Regions from separate parts of the Homo sapiens genome. Here region 2 is linked to region 1. The links come from fine-mapping of genetic effects on gene expression. Tissue or cell type: whole blood. Region 1 holds a variant in brackets; the other region holds the start of a gene. All regions are shown on one strand. Distances are from middle to middle.

Region 1 (2,835 bases):
ATGGGGTTTCACCATGTTGGCCAGGCTGGTCTCAAACTCTGACCTCCTGATTTCCCTGCAAAAAGCAAGACATCCGTGGGCAGCAGACACCCGTGGCTCCTTCAAGCAGGGCCCTGGGGACAGCGGGGGACCCACACTGTCCCTGCTCTGCCCCAGTTCCCATCAATGGCCACTTTCTTAGCACAGCAGGGTGGTGAATGAGAAAGCCAGGTGTGAAACCCACACCCCCAGGAGGCTCGCTCTGGGCTGCCACCTGGTCACAGCCATTCAGGCCCATCAGGACCCAGTGATGGCTCCTGGCGTCTGGCCCAGGTACCCGTGCCCATCTCTGGTTTCCTGTCTGTGCAGTCAGAAACCACCATTGAATCAAAACCTGTCTAGGAAGCCTCGTCCCAAACAGGGCTTGGTGTGCAGGTCGGTCTGTCTACACCAGCCATCTGCACCCAGTCTGTCTACACCAGCCATCTGCACCCAGTCTGTCTACACCCAGCCATCTGCACCCAGTCTGTCTACACCAGCCATCTGCACTCAGTCTACACCAGCCATCTGCACCCAGTCTGTCTACACCCAGCCATCTGCACCCAGTCTGTCTACACCAGCCATCTGCACCCAGTCTGTCTACACCAGCCATCTGCACCCAGTCTGTCTACACCCAGCCATCTGCACCCAGTCTGTCTACACCAGCCATCTGCACCCAGTCTGTCTACACCAGCCATCTGCACCGTCTGTCTACACCAGCCATCTGCACCCAGTCTGTCTACACCAGCCCTGCTTTCCACTCAGGCTTCTGTGTATTTTGGATTCTTGACCCTCTCCGCTGGAGATGCTGAAGACGCTTCTAAGGCTAAAAGTTCCGTTGGCCCGAAGTTGGTACAACAGGGTGCCAGGAAGGAAGGACGGCAAGGGGGAAGGAAGGGAGTGTGCCTTGCCTCTCTGGGTTTCTGTTCTACGTTCTTTGAAGAGTTCAGCAATCACCAAAAGCCACATCATCCCTGGTTCCTAATGCACTGACTTTATCACCTGAGTAGATTTAGAGAGATTCCCAGGTCCTGGTGAAAAGCTTCACCCAGCAAATGTCTTACTCCCCTGAAATGGTTTTCCGATTCCCATAACCAACCCAATCCACAAGGGAAGCCCACTGGAGACGCAGGACCTGGTGGCAGGGGATGGCTGGGTGCTCCAGAGTCTGGGGTCAAGCTGGTAGTCTCTGTTTCGAGGCCTCCTCTCTTCTAATTCCCTGAGCCTATGTGGTTACTGTGCCAGAAAGGTGCTGCTCCACTCCACCACACTCTAATTCCTATATCCCTGAAGCCCAGGTATACAAACCTGGCACACCTGGACCCAAGCTGGTGCCCCA[G/A]CCCCACCCGGATCACTGCATTGGGAGCTAGTGGGCCAGGTGGTGATGCTAGCTGCTCTCTGATGAGCCCCACCGAGGTCCAGCCAGAGCTCCTGGCCACACCAGGGCAAGTGCAGAGAAAGCCTTGGCTCAGTTCCCCTCCTCACTGACACATGCCTACCAAGCCCCAGCCCAGGGCAACCCCCGTCCTCCAGGGACTCACAGTTCAGGGTGAGGCCAGACCCAGGGCGGGGATGGGCAGGTGGGATACCAGAGTGAGCCCTCAGCAGCGCCCTGAGTCTAGGCCAGCTTCCCGGAAGAAGAGGCATCTGAGCAGCACCTGAGGGTAAGAAGGTCTCGCTGCATGAGCAGATGGGTAAGGGAGCACCCAAGACTCTCCCAGGTGAACCTTCAGGCCTAGCAGCCCCTTCTTCCTCCTAGGAAGGCCAGGGCTGTCCAGGCTTGCTGGAGGCCTCAGGGGCAACGTCGTGCAACTTACAATGGCAGGACAGGGTGGAGCCAGGGCCTGGGTGCCCAGGATGGGGCCCAGAGCAGAGGAGAGCAGTGGATCCCAGAAGGGCCAAGCATGGGGTCTCTGGGGTCCAGGGTCCCTGACAGCAAACATCAAGTAGGCCCTGTCCAGTGAGCCCCAGGGGCTGTGACTGATGGGTACATGTGGCCGCCTCAGCAGGGCTGGCACCTCCTCCAGCAGGCAGAGATGGGCAGGACCTGGAGCAGCTTTACAGTTGGCTGAGCATTAATAATGAGCCATTATGCCTAACCCTAAAGCCCGAGAGAGGTGGGTCTACATCCACAAGTCCTGCTGGGGCAGCCCCTGAAGCTGCAGATTCCAGCCTCTTCCCATGTCTGCACTGAGCAGGCCTTGCCGGGAAAAGAATCGGATAAGAACTGCATCCTGCATATGAGTCTCCACATGTGGGCACACATACAGTACCTAGACACCTGCGTGCGTGCACACACACGTACATACACGAGAACTGCGCCCTGCACCTCATCTCTCACCACACACACGTGCACACACACACACAGAAGCTGCACGTGGCACCTCAATATCCCTGTGGGCACACACGTGCACACAGAACTCAGAAACTGCAGCTACACTCCTCCTGTCCCTGCCTGTGCAGCCACCCTGGGCTCCGGCTCTCACGTCAACACCTACGTCTGCTCTCAGCCCTCACCCTGCTGCAGGGGGAGCCACTCGTAAATTCAGCAATGCATGGAGCTTGCAGAGTGGGGTCCTGACAAAAACCTCTAACTGAAATTTGTTTCAGGTTTTGAAATGTGAGCACGCTGTGGACAATTACAAAGTGCAGTTCTACATGTTCGTTAAATCGGCCACCAAGTACTGTTGGCAGATTTTTCTGCCAAACTAAGAACAAAATACCTTGAAATAAATAAATATGCAAGTATTTTAATATAACTCTGCATTTAGGAAGGTAATTTCTATCATGAAATCTAAACAGTAAAATTTTAATCTG
Region 2 (2,662 bases), 210 kb before region 1:
GGCACACTCGGCCCGAGTCCAAACGCCGCCAGTCACTTGCTCTGAGAGGCTGGATGAGCGACCTACCTTGATGTCCTCGTTCGTAAAATGGGTGACGGTTGCCAGGCCGGGGCGGCTGTGAGGCCCCGTGGGGGTGGCGTTTGGAGAACGCGCGCACACGCCCACCCTTCTGCAAGAACCCCGCAGACGAGAGCCTGTGCGCGCGCACAGGAGGCCCAGGGAGGAAGCCCCTCCCCGCCTGCCCTTGCCATCCCGGAGGCCACAGCCGGACAGGCCCGTGGGACAGGCCCGTGGGACGCTTCTGCACAAGGTCTCTGACCTCCGGCCTCGCAGAAGAGGTCAGAGGGTGGCCCCTGCCTGTCACGCGCCCATGGCGACCCCTCCCCAGAAGGGGTCCCAGCGTGGACTCCAGGCGCCACATCGCTCTCTCAGGGCATCCGGTCTGGGAATTCTGGCCGCTCAAAATAAGACTTCAGCGCTACTGGGTGCTACTGAAACCAAGCCTGAACATGGGCCTTTCCCGGGGGTGAGGCCCCCCGGACCTGGCGCCCTCGGCCCGACAGCGGGGCCCCGCTCCGCCGCCCGCACCCGCCCAGCCCCAGGGAGCGCGGCCCGCACGGAACGCCCGGGGAGTGAAGGCTCAGAACACTCTCGAGGGGACGCTGAGGACCACGAACCGTGGACGCGCCGCGGCTTCCCTCCGAGGTCCGAGTTTTAAGTGAGACCAGCCAGCCGCACCCCAGAGTGTCCGCCCCGTCCCGGGGCCGCCGGGCCTGGCGACGCGAGGATGCGGCGTGAGGAGGGTCCCGACGCCGGCGCCCGTCCCTCAGCCCCACACCCGGGAGCGCATCCCGTCTCCACCGCGGGCGGCACGCGGCGGGGGCCTGCGGGGGCGCCCAGGACACTTACCCAGGGCCTGCGGGGCGCGGAGGCTCAGGCACACCCGCGGGGCAGCGCGCCCTGGCCAGGAGCTGTGGCGGCGGGTGCCGGCGCTCGCATCCCGGGAACCCGCGGCGGCTCCAGGGACTGCCCCACCCCGGCACGCGAGCCGCCCGCCCCGCCCCGCAGCATCCAGGGCCGGGAGGCGGCAGAGGGCGCCCGCGGGTCCGGCTGTCTCGGGTCCGGCTGCCCCAGCTGCCCTGGCGAACCGGAGACGCCATCCGGTTCCCCTGGGGTCCGCCCTGCGCCCTTCGCGTCCCAGTGATCCCCCGGAGTCTCCGTGCCCCGAGGCGGGGGTCGCGCGCTGAGCCCCTCCAGGCCCTGCGTTCCCCCTGGGGTCTGTGTGCGCCCAGGGTCCCCCGGTTCTCCCTGCGCCCCCGTCCCCTCCCCAGCGCTCGCGGCCGGCTGTGCTGAGCTGCCGGCCCTAGAGCCGGGCGGTGTAGACCCGAACAGGTAAAGTGAGGAGAGCGTGTGCCCCCTCGCCTGCCCCATGAGGTCGTTTCGAAAATGTAAAAGGAGTCATGGTTTTTGGCGAATTATAGAGAATATTAAGATGCTTTTGGATCCTGAGCTTCCCAGGAAGCGGACGCGCGCCAGGCACGGCAGGGTCGTCCGTGCGACGTTCTTCGTCCTGGGCATTTCAGGGTCCCACGCGGCAGGTGTGCGGCCCTGGGTGCCCCTGCCCCGCCCACCCCGCCGGTCGGCACCCGGGACCGCGCGGCCGAGAGCAGGGTCCTGCCTGCAGGTCCTTAGGGCTCACCCCGCGCCCTCTGCGCGCCCGCCGGCCCCTCCGACCTCGGGCTGCGCCTTCTCCTTCCCCCTCCCGGTGGTCCTTGGCCCCCTCTAGTCCTCCGTCCGGGCGCGCAGGCCCTGGCTGAATTCCCTGTACCCTCAGGGGATCCCTGGGGACACCTCAGCCTGGCCTCGCACCCTGACGTCTCCACAGACCCTGGCCGGCTTCCACCCGTTCTCGCCCTCGCTGGGGCCGGCCATGGAGTCGGTGGTCCCTGGAGTCCGCTCCTCAGCATCCGCGGTCCTCATCCCAGCCGGGGGAACCGCGCCCTCTTCATCCCGCAAGGTCGGTTTTCAGCAACGCGGCCGAGGCTGTCACTGGCGCCCCCAGGTTCTCAGTCAAACCCCGTCTCCCTGACGCCCCCAACCCGCCCCGCGCCTCCTGCTGTTCTCTGAATAAGGCGTGCGGGCCTTGGGGCCTTTGCACTCGCTGTCTGCTGTCGGCTCAGGAAAAGTCTCTTTTCCAGACACAGCTCCCAAGGTGGGGTGGGCGCAGCTGAGAAGCCCACCCTGCCCCCAAGTGGCCACCGCCCCTCCCCGGGTGTAGCTCCTGCAGGGCAGCCCAGAATTGCTGAGTTCTGCCGCTCTGTCCCCAGGGGTCACCAAGTCGGCTCTGCTCACCTCTGGTTCCTGTCGAATAGCAGAGGCTCAAAAATGTGAGCTGAGTAAATGGGCTTTTTTGGGACAGAGTCTTGCTTTGTCACCCAGGCCTGAGAGCAGTGGTGCGATCTCAGTTCACTGCAGCCTCTGCCTCCAGGGCTCAAGCGATTCTCGTGCCTCAGCCTCCCAAGTAGCTGGGATTACAGTCGCGCGCCACCACACCTGGCTAATTTTTTTTTTTTTTTAAGTAGATAGTGGTTTTGCCATCTTGGCCAGGCTGGTCTCGAACTCCTGACCTCAGGTGATCCACCCACCTCGGCTTGCCAAAGTG

The links. PIP is the estimated chance that this variant, and not a neighbour inherited with it, causes the effect.
Region 2: AHRR starts here. The variant in region 1 is fine-mapped to the expression of AHRR in whole blood (TOPMed, PIP above 0.99).

The regions. Positions count from the first base shown.
Region 1 is chr5:106,386-109,220 of GRCh38, reverse strand. All of the region lies in intron 1 of PLEKHG4B (pleckstrin homology and RhoGEF domain containing G4B), which reads right to left. Among named protein-coding and RNA genes, the nearest start is that of PLEKHG4B, 16 kb to the right of the region's middle. The variant G/A (reference allele first, on the strand shown) is at 1,358.
Region 2 is chr5:320,067-322,728 of GRCh38, reverse strand. AHRR (aryl hydrocarbon receptor repressor) reads right to left here and starts at 1,015. Exons shown (of 11, transcript NM_001377236.1): 1 at 910-1,015. All of the region lies in intron 3 of PDCD6-AHRR (PDCD6-AHRR readthrough (NMD candidate)), which reads right to left. RefSeq lists enhancers at 4-123, 212-779 and silencers at 364-423, 434-813, 904-1,393, 1,544-1,803.